Linked DNA regions of Homo sapiens. The protein of the gene in region 1 purifies or fractionates together with the protein of each later gene. This does not show direct contact. Each region holds a gene or a part of one and is shown on either strand. Other genes may lie near its edges. The genes, in order: CCNG1, PPP2R5C, PPP2R5E and ZZEF1.

Evidence for each region.
Region 2: the proteins of CCNG1 (region 1) and PPP2R5C purify together in Homo sapiens (affinity purification with mass spectrometry; 4 studies listed by BioGRID and IntAct, with this or other methods). This does not show direct contact.
Region 3: the proteins of CCNG1 (region 1) and PPP2R5E purify together in Homo sapiens (affinity purification with mass spectrometry; 3 studies listed by BioGRID and IntAct, with this or other methods). This does not show direct contact.
Region 4: the proteins of CCNG1 (region 1) and ZZEF1 purify together in Homo sapiens (affinity purification with mass spectrometry; 3 studies listed by BioGRID and IntAct, with this or other methods). This does not show direct contact.

Annotation. Positions count from the first base shown.
Region 1 is NC_000005.10:163,433,205-163,441,229, forward strand, and holds the start of CCNG1 (cyclin-G1), read left to right. Parts: upstream 1-4,390; 5' UTR 4,391-4,600; intron 4,601-6,052; coding exon 6,053-6,316; intron 6,317-7,873; coding exon 7,874-8,025. UniProt on the Homo sapiens protein: May play a role in growth regulation. Is associated with G2/M phase arrest in response to DNA damage. May be an intermediate by which p53 mediates its role as an inhibitor of cellular proliferation.
Region 2 is NC_000014.9:101,876,134-101,884,021, forward strand, and holds part of PPP2R5C (serine/threonine-protein phosphatase 2A 56 kDa regulatory subunit gamma isoform), read left to right. Parts: intron 1-6,027; coding exon 6,028-6,138; intron 6,139-7,123; coding exon 7,124-7,216; intron 7,217-7,298; coding exon 7,299-7,429; intron 7,430-7,888.
Region 3 is NC_000014.9:63,378,668-63,386,555, reverse strand, and holds part of PPP2R5E (serine/threonine-protein phosphatase 2A 56 kDa regulatory subunit epsilon isoform), read left to right. Parts: intron 1-1,984; coding exon 1,985-2,112; intron 2,113-4,398; coding exon 4,399-4,500; intron 4,501-7,888. UniProt on the Homo sapiens protein: The B regulatory subunit might modulate substrate selectivity and catalytic activity, and might also direct the localization of the catalytic enzyme to a particular subcellular compartment.
Region 4 is NC_000017.11:4,013,440-4,021,327, reverse strand, and holds part of ZZEF1 (zinc finger ZZ-type and EF-hand domain-containing protein 1), read left to right. Parts: intron 1-7; coding exon 8-199; intron 200-1,558; coding exon 1,559-1,659; intron 1,660-3,356; coding exon 3,357-3,492; intron 3,493-3,597; coding exon 3,598-3,957; intron 3,958-4,553; exon of another isoform or gene 4,554-4,695; intron 4,696-4,861; coding exon 4,862-5,005; intron 5,006-6,812; coding exon 6,813-6,981; intron 6,982-7,139; coding exon 7,140-7,238; intron 7,239-7,713; coding exon 7,714-7,879; intron 7,880-7,888. UniProt on the Homo sapiens protein: Histone H3 reader which may act as a transcriptional coactivator for KLF6 and KLF9 transcription factors.

The DNA.
Region 1 (8,025 bases):
GTTTGGGGAGAGAAAAGAGAAAAGGGTTGGCAAAATCAGAGAGGGGGATAAAAGAGTTAAAAGGCTAGAAAGATAAGGAAGGTAGTAACGTGAAACAAGGAAGGCCTTAAGTCCAATTCTCAACTCCGCCAAAACGTTTTGTGTACATGGGGTGTGTGTGTGTGTGTGTGTGTGTGTGTGTGTGTTTGGGTGTGTGTGTGTGTTTGCTTTTGGGGGAGGAAGGTTAGCAACCTAGGCAGAAACCTGGATAAGAAAGGAAATTGTTCTTGCCTTCCCATTCCTTCTCCTTCCAAAGCAGGAGACAACAGAGACACCTGCAGTGTTGGCTTCTGACTGGAGGACAATGACCCAGCTGATCCTTCTGACGTCTTACGTTCACAGAGAACAGCAGCCAACACATCCTGTGGCTCAAAAGCTGTAGCAGCATTTTTTATCTGGGATTACAAAATACAATGGTCTGGCACTTACAAAGTTCTCAAGAAATACTTGTTGATAGACAAACAAAGTAAACAGTCAACATGGGCAAAATGTTGATTATTGAAGCTGGGTAATGAGACTTAAATGTTCTGAAATAGAAACTTTTTAAAAAACTGCAGAAAAATCCAAATTCAAGTTTTGTGTGAAGTATATTTAGTAAATAGTAAACAGTTACTAAACATGAGATATATAAAATATCCCACATTTCTGAAGAGAATAAAAATATCAGAGTTGTCAAAGGCAGGTGTGTTTAAGTTCAGCACGATGACCTGGCACATGGGAAACATATAATAAATGCAAACCCTATATAGTACGTTTTTGGCTGGTCTTGGCTTTAAGCTTTGTACTCAACAGAGTCTAAAGCCATTAGAGAACAGAGGATCCCCCTCTAATGTGACCCAGTGCCTTTATATAGCAGTGGTTACTTGATGAGTCAAAAATTTAGTTTTTCATGAAATATATAGTAAAACCTCAATTAATTGGAAGGGGTTACTTTATCTGAGTATAGAAGTGGTAGCTAGAACCTCTGAGTAGAAGGATATTCATGGAATTGTTAATCTATGTTTTTTATGTATCCTTCTCTGTCTTTCTCCTCCCAACCATACTTAATTTCACTGGTGTCCCATAAACTAATAAAGAATTAAAGGAGCCACTGACAAGCAAGTTAACTTCAAATGAATAAGATAGACTAGATGCACTAGAGAACAGCTAGAGAAGTGGAGGAGGCTGTAATGCACAGTTACAGGAAGGATCAGAAAGCAGAAGGGAACTCAGCTGAGATCTTTTTGACCCTCACTTCCTTGGCCCTTATCATAGTTGGACAAGGCTACACACAAAAGTACCAGACATTTATTAGGGAGCCTGAAAAGAGGGTAAGGTGATTGGACATTGTGTGCAGGAGGGAAGGCACAGACTCCCACATCTCCAAGATGGAAACAAACAAAGCCAACCGGGAATTTCCCTGTGAGTCAGGGCAGTATTTGACACACCACCACTGTTTTATACCTGCTTGTTATAATCTTTGTTGTTGAAAGGCATGTCTACAGCCTACCATGCGGAGAATATGATTACATCTTCCCGTTACTGCCTGGATTCTTGCCCAGCCTCAAGGCCATTATTCTGACCATTAGTTCTTGTTGTACTTAACTGTTAATGGAGAAGAAGGTATGAGGATAGGAATTGAATACATCATTGAGCCTAGAATATACCCCCAGAAGTCAGTCATTTAACAAATTTTCAATAGGAATTCATGATTAAATCCACACTTCTTTAAAAATAAAATCATAGTTAACGAAGGGCTCATTATCTTTATTTTACAAGAGTGGATAACTGAGTATTACATTTCCACATTTTGCTAATTAGGTCTTTTCAATTATTTAAATGATGGTCTATATTCTAACATTTTGAAATGAAAATGGCAGAGGGGGTTAAGGGAGGAAGAAAAGTAAAGAATTTCAATTTGACTTGATTTATATTTAATTAATGTCTCTCCAGTACTAGTGAAATATTTTTATGTGAGAGATTTTAATAAAAAGTAAAAATATTCTAATGTACGAGAAAATACTGTATTATATAAACAATGATATATTACCTAAAAGCCCTCAAGTGAAAATTTCAAGTATAAAAACGTATAGAAATTAATACATGCAATTTAGATATTTTTATCTGTGTTAAATAAACAGTTCTAATACTCTGATTATCCTTCTAGGCTGAAAACAGAAGACTAGTCTGATAACAGAGAAAACACATCAAAGTGTGTTTAAGCAAGATATTTAAAAAGAAATAGTAATTTAATACTAAGGGCTACCATTTATCAAGAAATCTACTGTGATCTGGGAATAGTGACTACCTCTTTATGCACTTTCTATTATTTAATCCTCTTCATAACCCCATGAATAATGTATTTTTTACTTCTCATTGTTGAGAAAAGAAAATGTGATTAAATAACTTGCTGAAAGTCACATAACAAGTTATGAGCTATTCCTGGATATGAATATAAGTTTATTTTATTCTAAAGTCTATGTGTTTATATTGCCCACAGGTTACATGTTCTACAAGGACGGGTACCAGTCTAATTTGTTCTCCACTGGCCTATGCTATGTGTTCAATAAATATTAGTTAATTTATTCGTGCTTTTGATTGCTATAAAGAATTTTTTTTTTTTTAGACCAAGTCTTGCTCTGTTGCCCAGGCTGGAGTGCAGTGGCACCATCTCGGCTCACTGCAACCTCTACCTCCCAGGTTCAAGCGATTCTCCTGCCTCAGCCTCCCGAGTAGCTGGGATTACAGGCACGTGCCACCATGCCCAGCTAATTTTTGTATTTTCAGTAGAGACGGGGTTTCACCATGTTGGCCAGGTTGGTCTCAAACTCCTGACCTCAGGTAATCCACCCGCCTCTGCCTCCCAAAGTGCTGGGATTATAGGTGTGGGCCACCGCGCCCAGCCTGCCATAAAGATTTTATGATTTTTTAGCCATTTTTTTTAAAAATTGTGCATATACATTCCTAATTTTAGGAATTAGGAATAATAGGAACTAAAAGCCAAAAGGAGAAACTACATTTATAAACTCACACATTACAGCAAAAAGTATTTTTAAATAAAATCACTTGTTAAAGGTTATAAATTGCCAATTTATATTCACTAGGTAAGCTTTTATTTTCAAAAGGAACAAAGGCCTCTTCCCCATTTGAGCCCCAGTTTCTTAAACTGACCTGATTATGTGGCTAAGGTATTATTGTGAGGTATTGATGTTTTCTCCTGTTTTTCCTTCCCCTTCCTCCCCACCCCTTTTCCCCCTTTCCAGAGTTTTGTTCTGTGGCATTGCCTTGGGTAAGTACACGGCAGGGCAAATAGCAGAGTGACGGCAAATCTTTCAGATTTTCACTTTTTCAAAGTAAGAGAGACCGAACTGGGGCCATGAGAACAGAGACATCCAACTACTGTGTAATTCATAAGAGTTTAGAAATGACTCCTTGTGCACCCTTTTTCAGGCCCTTTTACAAATGGACTTTTCTCACTTGTGATGATCTGGGAGAGTGAGAGTGAGGAGAGTCTAAGAAGAGTTCAGGCTAATTATTTTCCCACTAATCTGGCATAGGAGAGGCTCACAGAGATTAAATTCATTATGGTAAATACAAAGAGTAATACTGCTTTACACTCGGGTCTGTAGACTGAGATTCACACTCACCACAATTATTCCTGTTAACAGTCTGCCACATACCTTTCATTTTAAGCAACTGAAAAATTGTACCAACTTTTCTCTTTAAATTTGCTTTAAAAGCAAATTCAGAAAATTGGTAGAGGGTCAAGAAATTACACAGTCCAACTCCATTATTTGATAAATTGTATAAAAAGCAAACTAAGGCAAGAATCAACTGACTTCCAAAGTTCACGAAGAGAGCACTCTGGAAGTTGATAAACCACCAAACCATATAAATTCCACCACCTCTTTATCTGTAATTAAAAATCAAAGGTTGACTTTTTTTTTTTTAACTACTCACTGTATTTTTAGAAAGATGGGGCAGAACCACTGTAGAACTCCTAAACCCCACAGAACAAACAGTACATTCTGGAATGATACGCCGGCCAATCCGGCTGGCAGCCGATTGACCTGACCCAGGCGAGGGTTGCTGCACCGAGTATTTAGTTTGGCCCCCTACTGAATGAAGACACTTTGTTAAATTCTCCAATGAGAGACGCTTAGAGGTAGGGGCGTGGAAGGGGGCCGGGGAATTTGAGGCCAGATAACGGGAAGTGTGAGCCGATTGGCCGGACTTCTCACTCCACGGCCCAGCCGTTTACGGATCGCGGAGGCCATCCATCAAAAGAATTACACCAATCAGCGGCGAAAATGCCCCCTTCTCGCGAGAAAGCCCCGCCCTCCAATATATTCCTCGTTAGGGCAGGCGCGGCCCCTTCGGCTCCGAGCTGACCCTGATCAGGGCCGAGTTGTCTCGGCGGCGCTGCCGAGGCCTCCACCCAGGACAGTCCCCCTCCCCGGGCCTCTCTCCTCTTGCCTACGAGTCCCCTCTCCTCGTAGGCCTCTCGGATCTGATATCGTGGGGTGAGGTGAGCAGGCCCGGGGAGGGTGGTTACCGCTGAGGAGCTGCAGTCTCTGTCAAGGTGAGTGGGACTGCGCGGGAGTTGACCGCCAGGTGCGGGTGGGGAGCTGGGTTGGGGGCGCGGGGCGAGGAGTAGGTCTGGCCCGCGCCCTTTTCCACACTAAACTCTACCGCTGTTGTGAGCACAAGCCCAGGCTAGTCCGAGGCTGGAGGGGCGGAGCCGGATCCGGCCTCCTGAGGTGCCTTTCGTGTCTGCCGACCCAGTCCCAGGGACTAGCCTGGGGAGGAAGAATGGAACCCCTGCAGTTAGAGGTTCCTCACATGACTAGCTCTGAAGACCTCCTGCCTTCCTGTCTTTAGTTGGTGTGGGAGGGACCTTCCATGTATCCAGGGCTTAGCTTGTGCCCGGGACATGGTTGTGTTATGCACACTTAAATCAATGGAATTCCCAGGTTCATCTTTCAGACTAGGTTAGCAACAACCCACCGCACCCCCCCGCCCCAATACGTGCTCCTAATGTCACCTTTTAAGTTTCCTTTCCTAACAACAATAAAAGTTAAGTAATATTGAGTATTGTGTGCCAAGCACTGTGCTATACTCTTTAAGTGGTGAATCATCTTGTTCAGTCTTCACATTCAGCGACAGATATTGTTACCCTCATTTTATAAATCTAGAAAGAAGCTCAAGCTCATTATTATTGTTCAGTGTTTTTTAAGCGTCTACTGTATGTGCTAAGCTCTTTACGTGATTTCATTTTAACTCACAAATCTGTGAGGTAGGTCATAAACCTTATCCCTACTTTATCAATGTGGAACTAAGTACAATTAAGTAACTTGAACAGTTCATTTTGTTAATATGTGGCAGAATACTTAACTACCATCTGCTTTTCACTTTCGGTATCCTGTCTTACGGTGTTTATTCGTGGTTATCTATTGACAGTGAATAACTTGAACAAGTATTTCTTGAAGATTTGCATTTTATTTTTCTAAAAAGCATGGTTCCGACCGGGCGCGGTGGCTCACGCCTGTAATCCCGGCACTTTGGAAGGCCGAGGCGGGCAGATCACAAGGCCAGGAGACCGAGACCATCCTGGCCAACATGGTGAAACCCCGTCTCTACTAAAAATATAAAAATTAGCTGGGCGCGGTGGCGCATGCCTGTAATCCCAGCTCCTCGGGAGGCTGAGGCAGGAGAATCGCTTGAACCAGGGAGTCGGAGGTTGCAGTGAGCCAAGATCGTGCCACTGTACTCCAGCCTGGCAACAGAGCGAGACTCCTTCTCAAAAAAAAAAAAAAAAAGCATGGTTCCTTCCCTCTAGGAACTCAATTTAGGATGTGACCAACTTGTAGAAGGGAAATAAATAACAGATGGCACTTTGCAATGACTTAGATGCACTAGCCGCATTGGGGGATGGGAGGCTTATAAATCATTTCTTGGCCCAGTGCAAAGATGGCCAAGGAAAGCAGGAAGGACTACTCTTACACTCCTTGCTGGTCTTTTTTTCTATATATAGATGATAGAGGTACTGACAACAACTGACTCTCAGAAACTGCTACACCAGCTGAATGCCCTGTTGGAACAGGAGTCTAGATGTCAGCCAAAGGTCTGTGGTTTGAGACTAATTGAGTCTGCACACGATAATGGCCTCAGAATGACTGCAAGACTAAGGGACTTTGAAGTAAAAGATCTTCTTAGTCTAACTCAGTTCTTTGGCTTTGACACAGAGACATTTTCTCTAGCTGTGAATTTACTGGACAGATTCCTGTCTAAAATGAAGGTATGTTTGAAGCTACATTTTTGTAATTTTGCTCAGTGTGTTTTGGAGATGGAATTGTTACCTTTTGGCTGGTATTCATAAACTTGACCTTTTTTTTTTCAGCACGTAGCCAAAACATTAATTTTGTCTACTACAGCATTAATATTTCTTATCATAATCAAGAGTAGTACATCAGGTATTAGACTTAAATTCTGAAATGAAAAATAGTCTAATATCAAGTAACAAATTGCAGTTTCCTAGTAAGAAAATTGGCTGTTTTTAAAAAACCCTTCTTGATAGGTTGGATTTGTCCATTTATTTACTATTTTTAGATATAAACAAATTTATTAGTGGCAGAAATTTATTAGAGGCTACATTGTGGCTAAGAATTAAGATATATTTGTTAATCACTACCCATATATAAAATTGTAAATGTTTTAGCCTTAGACCTAGTCAAGACTTGCTTATGCTTGGCATTTCCAGCTTCAGTGTACATGCAGTAGGGAGGAGAGTGTGTCTGAAGGAGGAGCAACTATTTTCCTATACTAGATAAACAAGACTGTCACTTTCAGAGCTTAACTGTTACAAATGCATCTGCCTTTCCTGTACACCCATGGTCACTGGAGGAAAATAAGATGATGTGACAATTGGAAGGAAACTCATATTTTAGTCCTCGGTATCTAACACAGTGCATCATAAAAAAGGACTTCAATATTTGTTGAAGATTCAAGAAATTTGCTTCAACAGACTAATTAAGCTCTTTAGACATTTCACATGTAGTCATTACCTTTGAATCTGTAAATGTTGCACAAATGAATAATATACAGCTATTCCTCAGGTATAATTCAGTCTTATGTGAGAATAAGATCGTTGCTCTTATGTACAAGTCATAATAAGAAAAATAACTACATTATGCCTTTAAAGAGGCATAAGTGTACTGCTGAAGAGTTTACAAGAAGAGAGAGAGCACAGAGATATTAATACTGGTAAAAGCTTAGTTTCATGTGAGCTGGAAGTAAACTGGATAAAGTTTTGACTGTGTCTCATACGGCAGACATTCAGAAAATTAAATGATAAAGATTAGTAGTGGATAGAACTCTTAGAGGCAGAGTAAACAGTATATGCCATAGTATTTTAAAACTGTTTTATATGTGTTCCCACAAAGACAAGAGCCTGGAAAAAATACAACATCCTGCAAAGAAATGGCTTATTTTGTAAATAAGCCATAAAGTATTTCAGTCCTCATATATCTTTGACTAGTTAACTTATTTGATCAAACTAGAACAATGTTTACTTATAGTTCTACAGTGATTAATAAAAACACACTTTTTCTATGCTGAGCCAAACATTATACTGAAACTCAGTCCAGTTACTCAAAAATTGGTTCTAAGTGGGGTCCATAGTGTTGACAGGCTATAGTTTAGGTATGAGTGGATTGTGTTAAGTCCATCACAGCTGAGAAATAAACCTCAAATATACATTTTCAAAATGTTGGGTCGGAGTTCTAGATTATCCTTTATGTTTTAATTGAAATAAGGTAGAGTCATGGGCTTACTGGTTTTGTTTTTGATTTTTTAGGTACAGCCCAAGCACCTTGGGTGTGTTGGACTGAGCTGCTTTTATTTGGCTGTAAAATCAATAGAAGAGGAAAGGAATGTCCCATTGGCAACTGACTTGATCCGAATAAGTCAATATAGGTTTACGGTTTCAGACTTGATGAGAATGGAAAA
Region 2 (7,888 bases), on another chromosome or scaffold:
TGTACTTAAATATATATATATTGCGAAGGGGCTTAACACTTTCTGCCCTTCCCAGAAATGTATCTCTTAGCAATATGACTCGTAGAACCTAACAGTTCCATCACAGGAGGAAGTGTTCTGCAGTAACTGTAATTTGGCCTTTGATGGATTCATCTGTTATAAATCCTGTTGACATGAATAAAACAGAGAATAAATAACAGAATAACCCTTGTGGTTTTGAACAGAGAACTGTAAATAATCAAACCTTTCTTTCCTGTTGCCTCTAAAGTTAGACTGTCAGCGGTTTTTTTTTTTAATGTATCCCTTCATGTCTTAAAATTTTTATATGTTACACTGCTGCAGTTATGTTACGGCATAAATATTCACTCATTGGTAATGAATGATAACACATACAGAAAGGCTGCATGATATTGCTGAATTGTAAGAATTTTCCGTAAAGTTGCTTCTTGGGCCATTCTAGTTTACATCTAATTTAATAAATTTAGCAATTTGGAGAACATCTGCAGGACTGATGTAAGTACTGAAAGTGGAAGTGTCAGGGAGGCAGCAGAAGCAGGTGCTTCCTGATATTAACCAGAGACGGTCCTGGCACAGATGGGGCCGTGTGAATCACATGCAGACATACGTATGCACTCACGTGCGTGCCATTATTTTCATGTGGAGGTCAAACAGTCAGAAACGTTTGGGAAGTGCTGTGTAATGCTAACTGTTCGTGCATAATGTTTTCCCATTTAGTAAGTGCTGTTGCATGTGTTTTCTGTGATTCTCACCACAGCCCAATGCAAAAAATAAAAAAAGGATTTACGCTTTTTTTTTTTTTTTTTTTTTTTTTTGAGATGGAGTCTCACTCTATTGCCCAGGCTGGAGTGCAGTGGTGCAATCTCGGTTCACTGCAACTTCCACCTCCCAGATTCAAGTGATTCTCCTGCCTCAGCCTCCCGAGTAGCTGGGATTACAGGCACCCACCACCACACCCAGCTAAGTTTTGTATTTTTAGTGGAGATGGGGTTTCACCATGTTGGCTAGGCTGCTCTTGAACTCTTGACCTCAAGTGATCCACCCGCCTCGGCCTCCCAAAGTGCTGGGATTACAGGCATGAGTCACCGCGCCTGGCCTTTACCCTTTCCAATGGAGGAGAAAATTGAGGCTCAGGCAGGCTGTTTGGTCTGAGGTCCTTCTTCTAGGTGGGAAGAGGGTGTAGAGAGACTGTTTCCATGAGGCTGTGCTGCCTTTGTTGGGCAGCGTGATTCTGCGTCTGTGCCTCTGGGTGTGCGCTGGATCCGTAGGTCTCATTTGAGAGATCACAGTGACCCTGTGTGCTGCCCAGAAGACCCGGGACTCCTTAGACCTCAGAGCTTCTTTGGTGTTCACTGCATAACGTTGATGTCTTCTCTGTTTCCTCAGACCGGATCCATGCATCCAGGTAGCATGGCAGTGACATTTGCACACAGACATCAGCACCCCAGGTTTCTGTACCTGGGGCTCCTGCCCCTGATTCGCCCCTGCAGCTTTTGTGTTAAGAAATGTTGCTAGGTCAGAAACCCAAGAAGAATTTGAGGTGATAGACCGTTGGCCCTCTGTTCCTTCCCCCCGCCCCAGTATTACTTTTTACTTAACCTTTTCTAGAGATATGCACTAAATTAATGCAATGTAATGTGGTAAGAAAGGTGTGTAGAAGTTAGGAGTGCAAGTTTTTTTCCTTACACATGAGAAATGACTTTCAATCAATCAGAATTGGCCTGGAATGAACCTTCCCGGACCTAGGTCGGTCATCAGTCAAGGACGCTGTATCAGTCTGCTCAGGCTGCCGTAAGAAAATACCACAGGCTGGTGGCTTAAACCACAGAAATGTGTCTTCTCTCCATTCTAGAGGCTGGAAAGTCTAAACTCAAGGGTGTAGCAGGGTTTGTTCCCTGCTGAGGGCCTTTTCTGGCTTGCAGACGGCCACTGTGCCCTCCCATGGCCTTTGCTCCGAGCAAGTGCAGAGAAGGCGAGTGTGAGCCTTCTACCATCCCTCCTTACAAAGACACTAATCCTGGAGGGCCAAGGCCCCACTTATGACTTCATTCACCCTTCATTATTTTCTCTGAGGACCCATCTCCAAATCCAGCCACACCAGGGTTTAGGTCTTTAACATGAATGTGAGGAAGGGAGGCCACAAGCATTGAGTCCATGACAGACACTGAAAAGAGGACATTGTGTTCAGAGCAAGCCATCTGAGTCACCTTGCAGGCCCTCAGCTCAGCATCAAGGATTCAGTGAGTGTGCAGGTGTTTGAGACGGGGCCTAGCTGCTGGGCTGACTGTCACTGTGCGGGAGAGCTTCAACTGGAAACCCTAATCACTAGCTTTCCTGCTAGTAGAAACCACCAGTTTACTTAGGAATCTCAGCTGACTGGGTGCCTCAGTCAGGGCTGTGCAGAGAAACAGCAGGAGAGACAGAGATTGAGATCTCAAGGACTTGCCTTCTGCAGTGGGTGAGTCCAGCGGGCAGGTCTGGACTCCGTGGACAGGCAGCGGGCACGAGACTTGGCCGTGGTGGACACTGCAGGCCGCAGGTGGACTCTCCTCAGAGAAGCTGCAGTTTGGGTCTCACAGGCCTCTCAGCTGACTGGTTGAAGCCCCCACATTCTCAAGAGTGATCGCTACTTGAAGTCCATTGATTATAGGTGTTAACCACATCTATAAAATGCCTTCACAGGAACACCCACAGCAGTGTTTGGACAGCTGGGCACTGTGGCCTAGCCGGGTTGACACATACGGCCAGCTGGCACAGTCGGGGACATTTTACTTTTTTTCAGTTATCGCCTTTAACCACGATGGGTGAAATCACACTTTCCTGTGCCTAAATAACATCTTAGGCAAGTTGGTTAACTTCTTAGTCATCCCTGGTCACAGAAATCCAATCTAGGTTAAAGCTTTCATCTCAGACCCTCTGCAAATGGCATCTAAGCCGCACCCCAGGCAGCCTGGCCAGGGAGGGACATGCTGTGGGAGAGGAGGGGAAGCAAGGGTGGCTCCGAGCCCCTCTTGCCCGCCCTCCCCCGGGGCTTTGAGCAGAACCCAGAGCAGAGGGGAAGGGCAGCTGCCTGTTCTGCTCAGTTGCTCCCTGTGGCCTCGGCCAGAATGGTGGTCTCTTCCTCTGTGGCATGTCTGTGACTCTTGGGCAGCAGGCCTCTTCCAGAGGGACGGCTGTTTCCTCTCCCCCAAGACCTACAGCCTCGTCTCTGGGTGAGCTGACCCCTCTCTCCCTTGGCAGCTTCCTGGGCGGCGTGGCCCTACGGCTCCTGCTCTGGCCTCTGTATCCCTGATGGGCAGCCCCAGAAACCTCGGAAGCAGTGACCGTGCTTTCCTTCCAGGCGCCATGGTTCCTCAGGCCCTGATGTCACAGGCTGTTCCCAGAGTCTCCTGCCAGGCATAGTCCTGTTCACAGATTCCTCTGCCACCCAGAGTTCGTGCCCAGGCTCTGCCCTCCCCACACTGTGCTCTGCCCCTGTCGGCACCAGGCCGGGCCCACAGCTCTAACCCACCGAAGAACAAAGTGCCATCTCCCTTTCCTGAAGGTGACCCTGTCCTGTGGGTGACTGGACCCTCACCCCAGTCTCTTGGCTTTGAGAGAGAGGGTAGAAACCCCAGTTCACGAATGCCACACTCCCCGTAGGAGCTAAAGACTCAATTCAGACTTTCCTTTCTCTGCCCTTCATGGCCCTGGAAGTTATGGAGAGCTTCAGCAGTGGCTGCTAATGACAGGACCCTGGGAGGACATGGCGGCCTGCCCAAAGTGTGTGTGTGTGTGGCCTTTCCTTAATAGTTGAGCTTTTAGCATCTGCTTGTTCACGTCTGTGGGCTTTGGGGTCAGGGTGCCAGGAGGGGCAGACTAGACCCCTGTCTGCGCCGAGTGCCTGTGGGCCAGCAACTGAGGCAGGGCCGTCCACCTGTCAATCACCGTTCTTTGGGAGGCTCCTTGCAGTGCCCTATACACACACTAGCTTCACAGAGGAGGGGACAGTCCCTGGAGAGTAGACATTGCCAGAAATTATAACACCAGTGAGAGTCAGGTTAACTCTCGGTTTTAGATTGCAAACTTTTGTCTTTGTACCTATGTCTTAGGAACATTACTCATACTTTTACTAGAAGTGTTTTTTAATTAGTTGTTCCTGGCTTTTCAGCCCCTTTTTTCATCCCTGCGTTTCTACAGTATCCGTGAAGGCCATTACAGTTGGTCTTTACGTCAGCTCCCCTCTCAGATGACACAGAGAACAAGCTCAGATGCTTGATACTCAGATGCTTGATGCTCAGAGCTTTTATAGCTGATGACTTTCTGAAAAATGATATTAAGGTTTGGAGTTCAGTATCAATACCAGTAAAGAAGGGAAGAAACAGGCAGGTGCGGTGGCTCACGCCTCTAATTCCAGTACTTTGGGAGGCCGAGGCAGGAGGATTGCTTAAGCCCAGGAGTTTGAGACCAGCATGGGCAACGTAGCGAGTTCTTGTCTCTGCAAAAAATAAATAAAATTAGCAGAGCATGGTGGTGCGTGCTGGTAGTCCCAGCTACTTGGGAGGCTGGGGCAGGAGGATCGTGTGAACCCAGGAGTTGGAGGCTGCAGTGAGCGATGATGGCCACTGTACTCCAGCCTGGGCAGCAGAGAGATGCCCTGTCTTTAAGAGGAAAAAAGAAAAGGGAAGAAACAGCAGTGGTGACATTGAGTATTAGCTTGGTCTTTACAAGACTGGGTATCTAAAGCCAGCCAAGTTTGCCCTGGACTCTCTAGAAACATCTTCTCGTTGTTATCGTAGAGTCAGATTTTAATCTTTTATGTCAAAGGTTTTGATTTTGTGCTTCTGAGAGTGGTGGGACTGGGGTTGTGATCACCTATAAGAGCCATTCACCAGAACCCAGTTATATAACTGGCATACGATCCGTTCAGAGATTCAATAAGGTAACCAATCATATTTAGACTTAGTATAAAAGAGGGTTGGGCATGGTGACTCACGCCTGTAATCCCAGCACTTTGGGAGGCTGAGGGGAGCGGATCACTTGAGGTCAGGAGTTTGAGACTGGCCTGGCCAACATGGTGAAACCGTGGTGAAATCCCATCTCTACTAAAAATACAAAAATTAGCCAGGCATGGTGGTGCACGCCTGTAATTCTAGCTACTCGGGAGGCTGAGGCACAAGAATCACTTGAACCCGGGAGGCAGAGGTTGTGATGAGTCGAGTTCGCACCACTACACTCCAACCTGGGCCGCAGAGGGAGACGTCACCTCAAAAATAAATAAATAAATACATAGATTTAGTACAAAATAAAAATAGGTTATAAATGTATGACATGGAAACAGTAATCTTTTCTGTTTATGTCACTGATCTGTCAGTATGTGTTATACAAGTCCAAACAGACTGAGAGAAATCTAACAGCCCATGCCTGGGCGCACAGCCATGCTGCCCCTACCGATCCTCTGTGCCCCTGAGCAGTCCTTTCTCTGGAAATGATCTTAGCTGCCGACTCAAAGGTCGTCCCACTCTGACTGTTGCTTTCCTCATCGTTGCGGATTGCAGAGGATGTTGGTGCCATTGTCACACGGGTCCTCCCTGCGTGACGCAGCCCTTGCCATTTCCAGCATTTTCAGCTGTGAATCTCTGCTGCGTCTTTCGTCATCTCATCCCTTTCTTACTCTCATTTTGAGCATTCTCCTTGGTCTTGCACCCACTGGATAGTATAAGACCTCAGAAGTCATCACTGTGCCATCAGCCTTTGTTGGTGTTGGTTGTCATTCAAAGTTTGACAGTCAAGAGTCCAAGTAACTTTGGTGGTCAACTTGCGTGCGCACCTGTCCAAAGTGATGTTTCCTGCTGCAGTTTTGATCCAGGCTCTCTCTGAGGACCCACACAGCTTCTGCGTTTTGAGGATACGGAGGAGCTAAGTTACCATGGGAAGCGGCTACTGTTAGAATTACCTAAGACTTTATAAAATGTTGTCTGTAAATATTTTAAATGCCCTGATTGTAATTATAGAATATGTGGATTTTAGTTTGCAGTTAACATGTTTCGAACATTACCACCTTCCTCCAATCCTACGGGAGCGGAATTTGACCCGGAGGAAGATGAACCAACGTTAGAAGCAGCCTGGCCTCATCTACAGGTATCGGGCTCTGGGTGATAGACTCGGAGGGCACTGGTGACACATGGGAATGGCCTGGGATCCACAGAGCGGGCGCACTGGTCTGGCCAGATGGACCTCTCCTCCTCAGTAGCATGGGCCTCGTAAACCCATATGTACAAGAAAAATATTTCAGCAGAATAAAGTTAATGTGTGTGTTTGACCACTTTACAACAGCCAGTGAAGATGTGTAATTGTGAGTATGTTCTCAGTGAAGATGGCCGCTGTGTTGATGGCCGTTGAATTGAATTCAGGCCCAGAGGTCCTAAGCCAACAATCTCCCAGTTTTTGCTCCTCATATTTAATAGGTGCCTGCTGGGCCCCCAGGTCCTGCGCTGGCCACTGCCTTTCCCCAGGGCATTTGTAAGGCAGAAGGTTGGTTGGCAAGGAGGCGCCAGGGTCGGCATGAGCAGAGCGGGGGCCAGGTGTGCGGGTGGGAGGGCCATCCATCCGTGACAGGCGGCCCACGCTGTCCCACCCAGCATGTCTGCACAGGGAAAGAATTGTCCCAGCTCCAGGAGGTCATGATTCTGGGTCCACATCTTAGGGCCCTCTTACCTGGCAGCCCCAGAGTTCCTGTGTATTTGGTTGGCTCTGCGCCTTGGCATTGTGGGACACTCCTAGGCGACAGGCTGCAAATCCCCCCTGCAGAGTTGGGTCATGGCTTGGTTTGTGGCATCTGTGCCCTGTAGTCCCTGAACAGTGTACTATAACTGATGACATCAGCCATGGAGATCATTTTGTTTAAATGCCGTTTAAGGGTGTAGTCTGTGGGTTTCACCAAATAAAATAATTACCATCACCATTTATCATTGAATTAAGCCATGTAATTTAGCATTAATTCTGTAGATATGTGGCTTTGAGAGGCTAATATTTGCATACCAATAAAGATTCAATTTCTGGTATATTTTAACCGCCATTCAATAAAATCTCATGTTATTTGACTCATTGTTTTTTTTCCTCCTAGCTTGTTTATGAATTTTTCTTAAGATTTTTAGAGTCTCCAGATTTCCAACCTAATATAGCGAAGAAATATATTGATCAGAAGTTTGTATTGCAGGTAAGGTACAAATTAGCTGACACTCTGAAAGCCCTGATGGAATGATGACACCCAGCCACTAAGTGTCTTTTTCTTCTCAAAGCTTTTAGAGCTCTTTGACAGTGAAGATCCTCGGGAGAGAGATTTTCTTAAAACCACCCTTCACAGAATCTATGGGAAATTCCTAGGCTTGAGAGCTTACATCAGAAAACAGATAAATAATATATTTTATAGGTAAGTCACGTGTGGATGGCGTTGTCCTTGTGTGTGGTGATGCTCATTTCCCCCCTCGATGCTCCCCTACCCCATCGTCTCCTCTGACAGGACTCAGCATGTGGAGGGGGTTTCTCAAAGCCTATTTGTCATGTGCAGGTGGACCCCCTTGTGCACTGTGTGCAGGGGGCTGCTGGGCTCATCCTCCCTGCCTTCCTCCCCTCTCCCCACAGCTCCCTCCTGAGCCACCAAGCTCCCCAGCGCCTCATCCTGGGTCCCTCCATTGTTCCTGTTTCTACTGAAAGGTCAAGTTTCCTGGAAATGTGGATGAATTGGTTCCATCCAGACCAACTGTATTAGTGAAGGTTCTCTAGAAGGACAGGACGCATAGGATAGATGAATATATGAAGGGGAGTTTATTAGGAGAGTTGACTCACACGATCACAAGGTGAAGACCCACAATAGGCTGTCTGCAGGCCG
Region 3 (7,888 bases), on another chromosome or scaffold:
ACTTTATTCATATATCTGATATAGCATCTGTCACAGTTTACATTGGATAGGCTTGTAGATGCCCCTTCTCCCACCAGTGTGCGAACTCTTTAGGGATAACAGAGTAAAGAGGTTAAGAATAGAGACTTTGGAATCTGCCACTTACTAGCCATGTGACCTTGAGCCAATGGCTTCTCTGAGTCTCAGATTCTTCATCCACAAAATAGAAAAGTAATGGTACCAACTCTGTTGGTTGTGAGGAAATGAGATATTATATATGTGGGACACTTAGCACAGTGCCTGGCATATAGTGAACATGCAGTAATGATTGTTTTCTTTGTACTCTCAGGGTCTGGTGCCTAATGAGTCTCAGGGTTTTGTTTTGTTTTTTGAACCAAGCTGAATAATGTAAATGGAAAAATTCTGTTTTCTCAGTGTCTTTCGGTAGATACATCTTATACCATTTTGTTCTCTTCTAAAACAGGGCTTCTTAATCTGTATAAATGAAGGAAGCCACCCCTTTTTCCCTTTTCCCCTGTAACTACCCTTTTTAGAGATTTTAGGTTTTGTTTTTGAGATGTTCTTTTGAATTCATGAAATCCAAGATGAGCCAATCAGGCCCAGCAGACCAAATTAGAGCCAGTTGATAGCATGGTGGGCAGAGAAAAGGGATCTAAGAGAGCAGAGAGGGTAGGTGCAGCCAGTGTCCCTGAGACCAGAAACTGAGCAGACATCTCCTGGCTTGCACAGGAAGGGACCAGAAACAAACTCTGGAAGAAGCCCTAGAAATGAGGCCCCAGTCTTTACCATATTGTCAGTGTAACCTTGCCTACATTACTCAGTCTCCCTGAGTCTCTGTGTCCTCACCTGTAAAATGAGCACAATGGTATCTCCTTCTGGGATGGTGGTAAGGATGATACATTCTACTTGCTGTGTAGGCACAGTGCCTGCCCATAGGAGGTACTTAGTAAATATTGGCCGCTCTACAGGGATGAGCAACTGTGGGTGTTCCTCAGTAGCTGTGACTGAATGCTAACCATATGCTGGGCCCTGGGTTCGATCTAAGTGTGTGTGATGAAAAACATAAGAAAGGGGACCAGTGAGATGTGCTAAAGTGATGTCAGGAAAGTGTGGAATCAGATGACATGGGCAGAATTAGAGAAGAATATAAATTAACAGGAAAACTTCTTTTCCTTCCCTGAGTCGATGAACCACTTGAACCACTCTGGACTTTTTTTTTGGTGGGAGGAGAAGACACGGTCTTGCTCTGTCACCCAAGCTGGAGTTCAGTGGCATGATCTCCACTCACTGCAACCTCCGCCTCCCAGGCTCAAGCAGTCCTCCCACCTCAGCCTCCCAAGTAGGTGGGACTATAGGCACATGCCACCAATCCCGGCTAATTTTTGTGTTTTTGTAGAGGCGAGGTCTCCCCATGTTGCCCAGGCTGGTCTCAGACTCTTGGGCTCAAGTGATCTGCCTGCCTTGGCCTCCCAAAGTGCTGGGATTACAGGTGTGAGCCACCGTGCCTGGCCCACTTTGGAATTTTCCAAGAGATTAAAAATCCACAAACATTTAAAATGTGGGCCAGGCACGGTGGTTCACGCCTGTAATCCCAACACTTTTGGGAGGCTGAGGTGGGCGGATCACGAGGTCAGGAGATCGAGACCATCCTGGCCAATGTGGTGAAACCCCGCCTCTACTAAAAATACAAACATTAGCTAGGCATAGTGGCATGTGCCTGTAATCCCAGTTACTCGGGAGGCTGAGGCAGGAGAATCGCTTGAACCCGAGAGGCGGAGGTTGCAGAGAGCCGAGATCGCGCCACTAGCGAGACTCCCATCTCAAAAAATATATATATATTAAAATGTGATTAATATTTAATTTTACCTCTAATTGAATGATTTACAAATAGCCTTTTGAAATACTTTTGTTTGGAAAGATTTATAATTTTGTTTTATCTTTGTCTTTTTCTCTCTCTTAACATTTTATTTTTCTTTTCCCAAAGGTGGCAGAAAGAGCACTCTATTATTGGAATAATGAATACATCATGAGTTTGATAGAAGAAAACTCTAACGTCATCCTTCCCATCATGTTTTCCAGCCTTTATAGGATTTCAAAAGAACATTGGAATCCGTAGGTTTTCAGTTTCTTTCCTCCGTTCTCTTCCTCCCTTCCTCTCTTTCTTTCCCTTCAGCCTTATTATGTGCCAGATGCTGTCCTTGTTGCTGAAGACGTATGTGAAAAGATAAAATCCTTACCTTCTGGGGATTCACTGACTGGAGAAAATAAACAGATACTTTAACAAAATACCGGTTAAAGTATCTGTTTACTAGACAGGCTTCTTGATCTGTCTATGAAGGTAGCAGATCTTTTGGGGAGGCACTGCAGCTGAGAGGAGAGGTGTGTAGATACTGACAGCATGGCCATGCTTAGACTGAATCTGAAAGGAATTTGGCAGGTGGATGGCATGGGGAGAGCCCTTTCAGACAGTGGGTCCATCCATCATGTTAAAAGGCACAAAGATGTAAAAAGCAGCTGTCAGTTTCTGAGACCTGTGAGTTTGGGAGGGCTGAGGCACAAGGTCTTTTGGGGAGGGTGCTAGAGGATGTGGCTAGAAAAGACTGTGGGACTCGTGTGAGCCTTCACCAAGTAGATGATGAGGAAGTACTGAAGGGTTGTTAAGTGGGGAAGTGGTCTGACTAGGTTTTCATTTTAGTGTGATCTATTTAACAGCCAACTCAGTCGCTATATGTATCTCTTGGAAAGGAAGGAGTTTAAAATCATCAAGGGAAGTTTAACATCCAGCCCTATGAAAGTTAAAGCATTCTGAATTTGAATGCCTTTACATTTTTCTCTGTGGAATAGAAGGAAAATTTAATGTGGTATTTAAAAATTGGGAGATACAATTCAGTATATTCATAATATGTTTATCTTTAAAAATTTTGCATGTAATTATAAAATATCACATTTCTAATTTTTCAAATTTGCCTAATTATATTAATAGAACTTGTAAAAATAAGGAGCTGATAAACAGTTAAGTCCCTTTATACAGATAGTCTCTTGAGGACCTAGAGAACGGTTCTAGCAAGTGTCTGTAACTACTCAGTATACTACATTTGGTGCTTTCCCATCACTGCCCTTGGGAGGAAGGTCATTCTGGAACCTTAACAGAAAAGAACTTAAATTTTCCTTTTAATGGCACAAGGCAGAAGCTACACAGCAAGTGTACTTTCTTGTAAATGTTTTGGAAACATCAGACTCATGGTTTATTTAATATATGGCTAATTTTTACCAATGCATTTTTCAGTGGTATTAGGAGCATGTTTGTTGCAAAACGGAAGCAACGGATATTTTTGCAAAAGGAAAAGCTATTTAGACTCTAGTCTGAAGCTATCAAGCCCATCATAACCTTGTCCTCACATTGCCCAAGAGCTAATTCTTGTTAAGTATGGGCTACCATTTTGGCTGTTTAGCTGTATAGTGTCCCATAGCTAATAGCAACCATCCCAGCTTGCCAGTTATCAGCATATATTTTGGGTCAGCAGGACTGGTGCAGATCAGAGCTAGACAGATAATTCATATTGAACCACCCAACCTACATGAGGGCTTGATTTCATTTCTTTGGATAAGAATAATTTATATATATACACATATATATATAACATTTGTTTCTAGGGAAGTAGCTTCTGATTTTGATGAATTATGTGTTATTTAGAAAATAGAATTCTATGCAAATTCAGATGTCTAAGGTTAGTGCTATCACAGATCCTTATTTTAGGGTGAAATTGCTTTACTATTATACTTGCCTTTTTATTAAATGAAATTATCAAATGCCCACAGGCAGCTCTATTCTGGGTGCCAATAATTAGAAGGGCAGGCCAGGTGTGGTGGCTCACGCCTATAATCCCAGCACTTTGGGAGGCCGAGGCAGGCAGATCACCTGAGGTTGGGAGTTCGAGACCAGCCTGACCAACATGGAGAAACCTCGTCTCTACTAAAAATACAAAATTAGCCAGGTGTGGTGGCTCGCTTCTGTAATCCCAGCTACCCAGGAGACTGAGGCAGGAGAATTGCTTGAACCCAAGAGGCGGAGGTTGCGGTGAGCCAAGATGGTGCCATTGCACTCCAGCCTGGGCAACAAGAGCGAAACTCCGTTGCAAAAAAAAAAAAAAAGAAATTAGAAGGGCAAAGTTAGATTTTTTTTCTAGTTCTACCACCCCTCAGAAAATTATCTTGCCTTGAAATCTCTTGATGTGGAAATGAACTGTAGGTCATTTTCAGTTGTTCCAACTAAAAAAGGATACAGACAGTGTGCAGTACGAGAAATCATTCAGACAAAAGTTGTGCTTTTGCTTTCTTCATTCAGTATCCCATTTTATAAGACTAACTAACACACTCCTTTTTTTCTGTGCTTTCCAGGGCTATTGTGGCGTTGGTGTACAATGTGTTGAAGGCATTTATGGAAATGAACAGCACCATGTTTGACGAGCTGACAGCCACATACAAGTCAGATCGTCAGCGGTAACTTTTTAAAGCTTTTTTGTCAGCTGTGCATAAAGCTATTGAGTTTTTTCCTTGCTCTTTGCTGAAGTTGCCTAATTGTACCCCAAATCTTAAGCAGCACAATTTTGTTTACAGTCATGCATTACTTAACAACCAGTATATGTTCTGAGAAATGCATCCTTAGGCAATTGTATTGTGTGAACATCATAAGTATACAGTAATTACACAAACCTAGATGGTGTAGCCTACTATGACACACCTGAACTATGTAGTATTGCCTGTTCTTCCCAGGCTACAAACCTGTGGTGAATACCGTAGCCAATTGTAACACAAATCACTAGGCAGTAGGCCTTTTTCAACCCTGTTAAAATTTTATGGGACCACCGTGGTATATGTGGTCTGTGTTGACCGAAATGTTGTTATTTGGCACATGACTGTATTTATATATTCATTTTTGCACACTTATTAACTGTGTCTTTATTTATTTATTACTGTGCCACTGAGTAACAAAGCTTCCTGACACTCATTTTGATAAAGCCCGCTTTCTTTCCTTTCTTTAATAATATTTCACTTCTGCCTCAGGGTTAAGAGCCCAGCATTTAACTGGTATTTTAGGTTCACTTAAAGGGACCATCAGGTAGTTTGCTCTCTGGGATTCACTCCCACTCTGAACTTACTTGAAGTATAATTGGGCAGATCTTGTACTTCACTCCAATAGCAGGGGGAATGAGGCACCATTTATCTAGCTCTTGGGCCCAGGACTTACTAGAACCCAACAAATTTATTACAATTTAAAGATCAGTGAAAAGAACATGAAGGTTAATAGTCTGGTATTAACCAGAAATGTTTGAGACCATATGGGAGAACAAACCAGTGGAACTCTTTGCAATAAATGCTTATGGCTTAGTAAAAATCTTGTCCAATGCATTCTACTTTCCAAAAGATGTACTTGGGGAGATTATAGAAGTCTAGAGAGCTCTTAGTAGTTGCGCCTGTGGTTTGGCTTTGATCATCCATAAGCAGATGTCAGCTTTGTATATCATAAAGCTATGGACCTTAGAGGACCCAGAGATGTGTGCGAGTGTTCATACCCAGGGTCTTGCTGAACCTCTCTGGTTCCCTTGGTGCTTTGCTTTGTCTCATTTTTAGTCTGTCAACTTGCATTTTATTGATAAAAAGAGCAATGAGGGGAAAGGTTTGATGGCAGAGGGACCATTGCAATGATTTTTTTGTTTTAAGTTACCAGGGATGTGGTTTATGAAAACCAACTTAATTATGGAATGTGGTGAGTATTTAGCTGAGAATCTCAGAAGAGGCTGGGATTTTTTACCCAGAATATTGGGATTATTATCAATTATGGGATATGTTATTCCATACTCACAGTTTAAACAACTTTTTTTTTTTTGTTTTTTGAGATGGAGTCTTGCTCTGTTGCCCAGGCTGGAGTGCAGTGGCGCGATCTCAGCTCACTGCAAGCTCCGCCTCCCAGGTTCATGCCATTCTCCTGCCTCAGCCTCCTAAGTAGCTGGGACTACAAGCACCCGCCACCACGCCTGGCTAATTTTTTGTATTTTTACTAGAGACAGGGTTTCACTGTGCTAGTCAGGATGGTCTCGATCTCCTGACCTCATGATCCACCTGCCTCGGCCTCCCAAAGTGCTGGGATTACAGGCGTAAGCCACCGCGCCCAGCCCTAAACAACTTTTAATTCAGTATATTAGCGATTGTTGCAAATTATAAATTTATGATAACCCTCCTTGCCCCAAACTTAAAATCTTTAAAGGATGTTACTTAAAAAAACGGCCAAGGGTACATTTTAATACTGTGTTGCATCGTTAAAGGTGCTTTGTGCATAACATCTTCTCTGAAAGCACATTATTATTATCCTAGTTGAACCAGGATTAAATCCGTAGAATCTCATCAAGAATATTGAAGAACTTGGCTGGGCACGGTAGCTCACGCCTGTAATCCCATCACTTTGGGAGGCTGAGGCGGGCGGGTCATCTGAGGTCAGGAGTTCGAGACCATCCTGGCCGAATGGTGAAACCCTGTCTCTACTAAAAGTATGAAAATTAGCCAGGCACGGTGGCATGCGCTTGTGGTCCCAGCTACTAGGGAGACTGAGTTGGGAGGGTCAGTTGAACCCGGGAGGTGGAGGTTGCAGTGAGCTAAGATCATGCCACTGTACTCCAGCTTGGACATTGGAGTGAGACTCTGTCTCAAAAAAAAAAAAAAAAAAAAAAAAAAGAGAGAGAATATTGAAGAACAACTTATTTCCACTCAAATTATTTGGTTTGTATTTAGTGAACTTCAATAATAAAACTATTTTCTGGTTATTATCTAAACTAAATAGACTAAACCCTTGAAAAAGATGAGAATTAACTAAGGGGACCAGGAATAGATAAAACTATTATTTTATCTATTCCTGGTTGAGGTTGATTATGATATTCTGGCATATTACAGTTATTTATAATGAGTGTACTTTCTTAATGAGAAAATGGGGGCCAGGCGTAGTGGCTCACGCCTGTAATCGCAGCACTTTGGGAGGCCAAGGCAGGCGGATCACCTGAGGTTGGGAATTTGCGACCAGCCTGACCAACATGGAGAAACTCCATCTCTACTAAAAAATACAAAATTAGCCGGGCGTGGAGGCACATGCCTGTAATCCCAGCTACTCAGGAGGCTGAGGCAGGAGAATCACTTGAACCCGGGAAGGGGAGGTTGCCATGAGCAGAGATTGCATCATTGTACTCCAGCCTGGGCAACAAGAGGAATCCCAGCTCTTTGGGAGGCCGAGGCGGGCGGATCACGAGGTTAGGAGATCGAGACCATCCTGGCTAACATGGTGAAACCCCGTCTCTACTAAAACTACAAAAAATTAGCAGGGCGTGGTGGCGGGTGCCTGTAGTCCCAGCTACTCGGGAGGGTGAGGCAGGAGAATGGCGTGAACCCAGGAGGCAGAGCTTGCAGTGAGCCGAGATTACACCACTGCACTCCAGCCTGGGCGACAGAGCGAGACTCCGTCTCGAAAAAAAAAAAAAAGAAAATGGGTTTTTAAAAGCAAGAATAATAATTTGTCAAATGAGCAATAGAAGGGTGTACTGACAGATGGAAACATTGGTTTCTCCATAGGTGTGGGAATAGGACAAGGGAATGAAGAAATTTAGTTGGTACTGTCAGAGAATAACTGAATGGACAATTTTACTTCAGGATGGCAAGAAGTTAATGGTTTCAGTTCAGATCAAATTTTGAAGTATTACAAATCTGAAAATGGTGGGTGGAATAAGTACTTAACACTGTTAGATACATATGCCAACATTAGTGCTATGTAAAATTGAAATTAGAAGAGAATTTGACAATATCCCCTGCATGACAGTGTGGTTAAGCGTTAAAATTTCCACCTACA
Region 4 (7,888 bases), on another chromosome or scaffold:
TGTGTAGATTTTGTCCATCATGCTGTACTCCTCAAAAAAGGAGATCAACGCTTTGGCTGAGCACGGAGACCTAGAGCTGGATGAGCGAGGGGACCGAGAGGAAGAGGTGGAACGGCCAGTCAGCAGCCCTGGCGACCCAGAGCAGAAAAAGCTGGACCCCCTTGAGGGCCTGGATGAGCCCACCAGAATATGTTTCTTGGTGTGTTCTTGAGTCATCTTGTGGCTTAGGAGGGGCTTCTGAGGGATGGCTTCTCTTTGGCCCGGGCCATGTTTTAGCCTAAACATGAAAATGCTTCTGTCTGCTGTCCTGAGAATTCACTTCCTAAAGACTCAGTCTTATGTTGTGCAGAATTGATCCAGAAGAACAGAAAAGCCCCACAACAATAGTTCTTAATATTTTGGGTTATAAACTCAAAAGCTTTAGGTCCTCTCTCCCCATAAAATACACATTCAAACATGTATGTAAAATTTTGCACGAATTTCAAGGGCTTACTAAAGCCCTAAGGCTCGTCCATGAACTCTATACGATAGTTCCTTCCTCATAGTTTCTCAGAAATACACTCTTACCTTTACTAGGTAATCTATTCTTCCTCAGAACAATATGAAAAGGATGAGGGCTTGGACTTCAGAAGTTGTGACTAAATGAAGAGTAAACAGAATGTAGCGTAGAATGTCAGAAAAAGCAAATCCCAGCCAGGCACAGTGGCTCACACTAGTAATCCCAGCACTTTGGGAGGCTGAGGCAGGAGGATCACTTGAGGCCAGGAGTTCAAGACCACCCTGGGTAACTTAGCAAGACCCTGCCTCTACAAAAAATAAGACTAGCCAGGTGTGGCATGCGCCTGTAGTCCTGGCTACCCAGGAGGCTGAGGCAGGAGGATCACTTGAGGCCAGGAGTTCAAGTTTACAGATTTTGCAGGAGAGTTTGCATCCCCTGGCACAGAGCATACATGCAATTCTGTATCCATGAATAAGTAAAAGCTATGAATCCAGTTGGCAAAATACAGAAAATGATGATGTCATTGATACTAACAGAAAAACTACTTTGATCAACATTGCTGACAAGTTTAAGTGCAGGTTAAAACTCCTCTTGCCTTTCTACGCTTTTGGGTACTCAGTGGTATGAGCTATGATCACACCACTGCACTCCAGCCTGGGCAACCAAGTGAGACCCTGTGTCAAAAAAAATCAAAAGAAAATACAGTGCCTATGTATGCGCTAGTTGTCAAACTTGAGTGTAAAACAGTTATAGAGACGCTAGCCGTGAATACGATGTGGTAAGTATCTACTGTCAGCATTGTATTTTGTTGACAGGATATTTCTTTGGGGTTTTAGTGTTTTATAATTTCCTTTGAAGTTACAGTCGTAGTGTAGGTGTTATAGTCCATGTTTTGGTGCTTACAATTTTATATGCTTTTTAAACTACCCATATAATGTTCCTCAATTATAACCTGTGGCAGCTTTTGCTATATTGTCTTCTCAGTTTTGAGTTCAGTTGATCAATACCGTATTGAAGCACTGTTAATGGTTCTTGTCTGCGTCCTCCCCTGGCCTCCAGATGGCTCATGATGCCCTCAATGCCCCTCTGCACATTCTCCGGGCCATATACGAACTGCAGATGAAAAAGACCGATTATTTCTTCCTGGAGGTTCAGAAGAGGTAAGGGACATTTCCGTGCAGCTGAAGTGTGGCCAGGGAGAGAATATGTGAGGGCGGGAGGGTGTGCGCCTCCTGGCAGCAGCTTCTGGATCGATCGACGCTCCGACAGGCCGGGAAGCAGTTGCTAGTCCTTTGTAAGGCGAGGTGGGAGGTGGCCTGTGCTACGTTACCTGGATCATCTTCAAAGTGCACTGTGGTTCCTCTTTAAAACTTATGTTTGTAGTCGGCCTCTGAGAGGAAACTCATTTTACAGACACAGAAATTGGGCAGGCACCAAGATGTCTCTCATGTGTAATCCCAGGGAGCAGACAGCACAGAGCAGGAACTTCTGCTCAAGATATTTTTAAAATTAAGAACATTCCCTTTCTCTTGGCCAGGAAGTTCAGAGCTAGTTTTTGGGCCCAACTTTTTAATTTGCGTAGAACTTTACATATCTGCAATCCAGTCTCCTCCATCCCCCGTATCCTAATTTTGACTTCTTACTCATTGTAAATTCTCATTTAATTTTTCTTTTATTTTGTGTTTCGTGTTTCTCTTTTATTAGTTTCTTATATATTGCCTAAAAGCCTTTATGAGGTGAAGCAGGGTTGCATTAGTTAGGGTACAGTCTAAGCTGCGGTAACTAAGAAACCAGAAATATAATGGATCAGGGCAGATAGAATTTGTTTTTCTCTCACATAACAGTCCAGAGGTAGGCAGAGTCTGGGGTGGGTGACAGCTCTGCTCCACAGAGGGACCCAGCAATCCCAGCGTTCTCATTTGTGGAGTGAAAGCTCCCTCGGCCACCCCACCTCTCGGTTCTAGCCCAGAGGAAAGAGGGGAGGTGGAGAAGGGAGTGCACCATTAGTCCAGTAGACTCCAGAGGTGGCACACCACCTCGCTCACCTGCACTGCCCAGAACCCAGGGGCATCAGCACATCTAGCTGCTAACCATGTCTCTAGCTGGGTGACTGTGGCTCTTGCTAAAACTCAGGGAGCTTTAGAGAGAGAGAAGGGCCACCGAGTTTCGGCCAGAGTCGTCCACCTGTTCAGACTGCGTTCAAATAAGGCAAACACCAGGCTGTAACCATTCCAGCTGTTTCTGTACCTCACTTCTGTTTTCTGTGTGTCAGTTTCCTTTTTCTGTTCGTAAACCTCCAACCACAGCAGTGGAGTCACTCTGAACCCATTCTGATTCAGGAGCTGCCCAATTCGGGGATCACTCTTTGCTCATTTAAACTCTGTTAAATTTAAAAAAAAAAGGAGAGAAGGGGAGTCCAGGCATGGTGGTATGAGCCTGTAATCGCAGCTACTAGGGAGGCTGAGGCAGGCAGGAGGATCGCTTGAGCCCAGGAGTTCCAGGCCGGCCCGGGCAACATAGCTCCAACACGTCATCTCTAAAAAAAACAAATAAATTTTTTTTAAAAATGTTTTTTTAATGAAAATAAAACATTTAAATTAATTTTAAAAATGGAAAAGATAGAAAAGGAGAATGGATTTTGCAGGAGAGTTTGCATCTCCTGCCACAGAGCATACATGCATTCTGTATCCATGCATAAGTGAAGGCTGTGAATCCAGTTGGCAAAACACGGAATATGATAATGTCATTGATACTAACAGAAGAACAACTCTGAAGAACATTGCCAACAAGTTTAAGTGCAGGTTAAAACTGGCCTGTCTACACTGTTGGTACTCAACTTTGTGCTGCCCTTCTGCAGGTTTGATGGTGATGAGCTCACCACAGATGAAAGGATACGGTCCCTGGCTCAGCGGTGGCAGCCCAGTAAGAGTCTGAGGCTGGAAGAACAGAGCGCCAAAGCTGTGGATACAGACATGATTATCCTGCCATGCTTGGTATGTCACCCGACCTCGGACCCAAAGTATCTGCACCCCATCCCCCACCCCATACCACCACTGTAAGAAGGCTAGACCTCTGTAATGGTGGTCTTGGGTTTGCAGTCCCGGCCTGCACGCTGTGACCAAGCCACTGCTGAATCGAACCCTGTGACCCAGAAGCTGATCTCCAGCACAGAGAGCGAACTGCAGCAGAGCTATGCCAAGCAGCGCCGTAGCAAGAGCGCCGCCCTCCTGCACAAGGAGCTGAACTGCAAGAGTAAGAGGGCTGTCCGGGACTACCTCTTCCGAGTGAACGAGGCCACAGCTGTCCTGTACGCCCGCCACGTGCTTGCATCCCTGCTCGCCGAGTGGCCTAGCCACGTGCCAGTGAGCGAGGACATCCTGGAGCTCAGTGGCCCTGCCCATATGACCTACATTTTGGATATGTTCATGCAGCTGGAAGAAAAGCATGAGTGGGAGAAGGTAGTTATGCAGACTGAGCTTGTGCTCACCCACCAGGTTCTTCCTCTGCCCCACAGGCTTCCTCCAGTGAGTGCTTCCTGGAGCGAGGCTACCTGTGTGGCTGTGCAGCTCCCTGACAGGTGTGAATGCAGCAAAGGTAGGGTCACTGTATCCTCTCCCAAGGATTGGGCTAGTGAGGAACTCAGGGGCCCTGAGCGCGATTTCCAGCTGAACCAGAAAGCTTTGTCGCCATCTTCCCAGTTTCCAAGTGCAGAAATCTTGAGGCACATTCGGTAGCTCCTTTTTGATCCTGTCCCTCACCCACCTTCACACACACACACGCAGTCCATGAGGAAGTTCATTTGGCCTCTCAGCCTTGCTTTGTCCATCTGAGAACACCACCAGACCTCGAGGTCTTTTCCCGGCCTTGCAGCCCTGCAGGTGCTGGCAGGCTTGCTCTAGCATATCTATCTTTCGGAAGGGACAGAGGGAGCCACCCTGCCTCTACTAGGCCCTTGCATAGGCGTGTCCTCCCACAGTTCTTGCCACCTAGAGCTCCCAACCCTGCACCTCACTCCAGGCATCGATTACATTGTGTGGTCATTATTTATCCATAGGCCAATCCACCTGCTTGGCTGGGGACTCCTTCAAGGACCAGGACCCTTTATGATTGGTTCAGTTAGTTCTTTCAGACCACCTCTAAGTAGCATCATTCTGAAAGGACTGCAGTGTCCTGATTGACACCAAGAGCCTGGTCAAGTGAGAGGTGGCTGGTGGAGTTGGTTTTGGGTGGTGGAGTCACAGAGGCTCGTCCTAGGTCTAAGATGATGCCAGCACCTTTGGGTGGAGCTTGGGTTGAAGTAAACTGTCCCTTCTTCCTGATGCCACTTGCAGGCCCTGACCTTATCTGTCTGCTTCCCACCAGATCCTGCAGAAAGTGCTCCAGGGCTGCCGAGAGGACATGCTGGGGACCATGGCCCTGGCTGCATGCCAGTTCATGGAGGAGCCAGGAATGGAGGTGCAAGTGAGGGAGTCGAAACACCCGTATAACAACAACACCAACTTCGAGGTAAGCCTGGGGCCGGCAGGCCCCATAAGAGCGACTGAGCCGCAGAGACCTCGTCAGCCCCTCCGTGCTCAGCCCCTCCATGCTCAGCCCCTCTGTGGCTCTCTCCCGCTGGACAGCAGAGACCTGTCCAGGAAAGTGCTTCCTTGAACAAACTGCAGTCTGCCTCCCTGAGGCCAGGGATTCTGTACAAGCAAGTCTTCTCTTCTCCGGACTTTTCTTGTTTTAATAGAAGAAAATGGGCCACCTAGCCCTGGAGGAGAGCTTTACTTTCCCTGCGGCAGGCTCCTCAGAGTGAGTCCTTGGCTTCACAGTGAGACAGTGAGTCTGAATGTGGTCCAGGTTGGACCCTCACTCTTCAGCTGCCACCTCATGACCTGCCCCCACCGTGGATACTACAGCCCCTTTTTAAAATTTCCCAGAACTGAATCAGAGTCTCATCTTTTCCATCCTTAACTTTGTGCCTGGGCAGGGAGGTAGGCATTTTGATGAGGCAGGAATGGGGCAGCCTCCGTTATTCTCATTGACTTAAGGCCATGTAGTCCCTTTAGCACTTTTTTTTGAGACGGAGTCTCACTCTGTCGCCCAGGCTGCAGTGCAGTGGTGTGATCTCGGCTCACTGCAACCTCCACCTCCCGAATTCAAGTGATTCTCATGCCTCAGCCTCCCTAGTAGCAGGAATAAAGGCACCTGCCACCATGCCCAGCTAATTTTTGTATTTTTAGTAGAGACGGGGTTTCACCATATTGGCCAGGCTGGTCTCTAACTCCTGACCTCAGGTGATCCACCCGCCTTGGCCTCCCAGAGTGCTGGGATTACAGGCGTGAGCCACCTCACCTGGCCCCCATTAGCGCTTTTAAAAATGTTGGAGAGAAAACTGAAATGTTGGAGTTGCCCAGGCATCTACTTCTGAGTGGAAGGCACCTGCAGCAGCGAAGGTGGATGATGAAAACCGATTTAGAACTGGGTTATTGGCCAGCTGAGATTTTGTTTTTCAGAAGTATAACCTGTCTTTCTTCCAAGTCTCTTCTCTTGTCATGTTCCTGGGCTCCAGCCCCACTCCCTTGGTCCCATACAGGCACATGTGGTCAGCCACCAGGTTCGATCCCAAAGAGGTCTTGTCTTCTCCACTGACCCTGGACACCCGTTGCCCTTCTCTGGGGTTCCTTTTGCTGCTACTTTCTGATTTCCTCACTTTTGCCTCAGCCCAGCCTTGCTCCACACCAGCTGTCAGTGATGCTACACTGTGCAAGCCTCACCAAAGCTTTCCAGGGTTTTCCCTGTTGTCCAGAGTCTGAGTGCCTCATTTTCATGCCCAGGGCCTTCAGTGTCTGCCCCTGCCAGTCTCTCTGGAGTCAGGTCTTGTCCCTGTTCCTGCTTCCCAAGCATACGTGCCCATGTAGCACACCCTTTACTCCAAACACGCCAAGCTCCTTGCCATTCCCTGAACATGCTAGACCTTCACAGGGCTGTTACCCTGTCTGAAATGCACCCCATGCACTCAGGTCCACCTTGTCTCCCACTCCCGCCTTCTCCTAACAGGGTCCTCCTGTCCTCTTCACTCTTCACAGCAGCCTGACACTCTTTCTCTGGGGCCCCGTGTTGCCTGCCCCGCTGTGCCTCCCTCGCACCATATTTGCAGTCTGTGCATGCTCCTCGCCCTAGCTGGACTCTGCACTCCTGGAGGCCAGGGCTGTGGTTCACTCATTCTCACACACCCGGGTCCAGCCACAGGACTCGGCATGGGACAGCTGCAGTCAGTGTCTAGTGAGCAGCATCGACAGATGTGTTCTCCATTTCCCCTCCCTAGGATAAAGTTCACATTCCTGGTGCCATCTACCTCTCAATCAAATTCGACTCTCAGTGCAACACAGAGGAGGGCTGTGACGAGTTAGCCATGTCCAGCAGCAGTGACTTCCAGCAAGACCGACACAGCTTCAGCGGGTCTCAGCAGAAGTGGAAAGATTTTGAACTTCCAGGTAGTGAAACAAATACTCGATTAGATAGGTTCTTCACAGGCAGTGTTTAAACTTAATATTGAGAAGGGAACTTACTGGAGAATGTTGAAACCCAACACCACTGCTGCCATTCCCTGTTGCTTCAGTTCCTGATGGGCCTCTGATCCTTGTGTGCCTAGGAGACACTCTGTATTACCGCTTCACCTCCGACATGAGCAACACCGAGTGGGGCTACAGATTCACCGTGACGGCCGGACACCTGGGGCGGTTCCAGACAGGTGTGTGCTCTGGGCTTTGCGTTCACACCATCTGCCTGCCAGGGACACTCCATGGCTGTGGGTGCCATGATGTCACTGATCTTGGTTAAAATCAAAGCAGGTACTTGTCTCTCACACTTTCCAAATTTGTCTCACAAGCCCCACACCTGTCACTCCTGAATGTGATTTCATTGGCTAGTTGTAAACTTGAATGGCCAGCTATGAGAAGCATTCTGTCAGGACCCGAAAAAGATGCTTATTCTCTTAGAATTTGCCAGGGCATTTTGAAAAAAGGAGGAACTGGAAATATGACCCCTGTGTTATTTTTACAAAAGCCTTAATTTCAGCCAGAATTTAAATGATCACAGTTATTAAAATTTGAGCAGTTTATAAAATGTAGAATTCTTAACGTACACAATTGTTATACTTTATTTAATAATAATATTACTTATTACGTATCTCTGTTTATATATCCGTGTTTTGGGGTGTTGGCCAGGATTCGAGATTTTGAAGCAGATGTTGTCAGAAGAAAGGGTCGTGCCTCATCTCCCATTGGCAAAAATTTGGGAATGGCTGGTGGGCGTGGCCTGTCGCCAGACTGGCCATCAACGATTAAAAGCCATCCACTTACTTCTGAGGATTGTGCGATGCTGCGGCCACAGGTAAGCGGT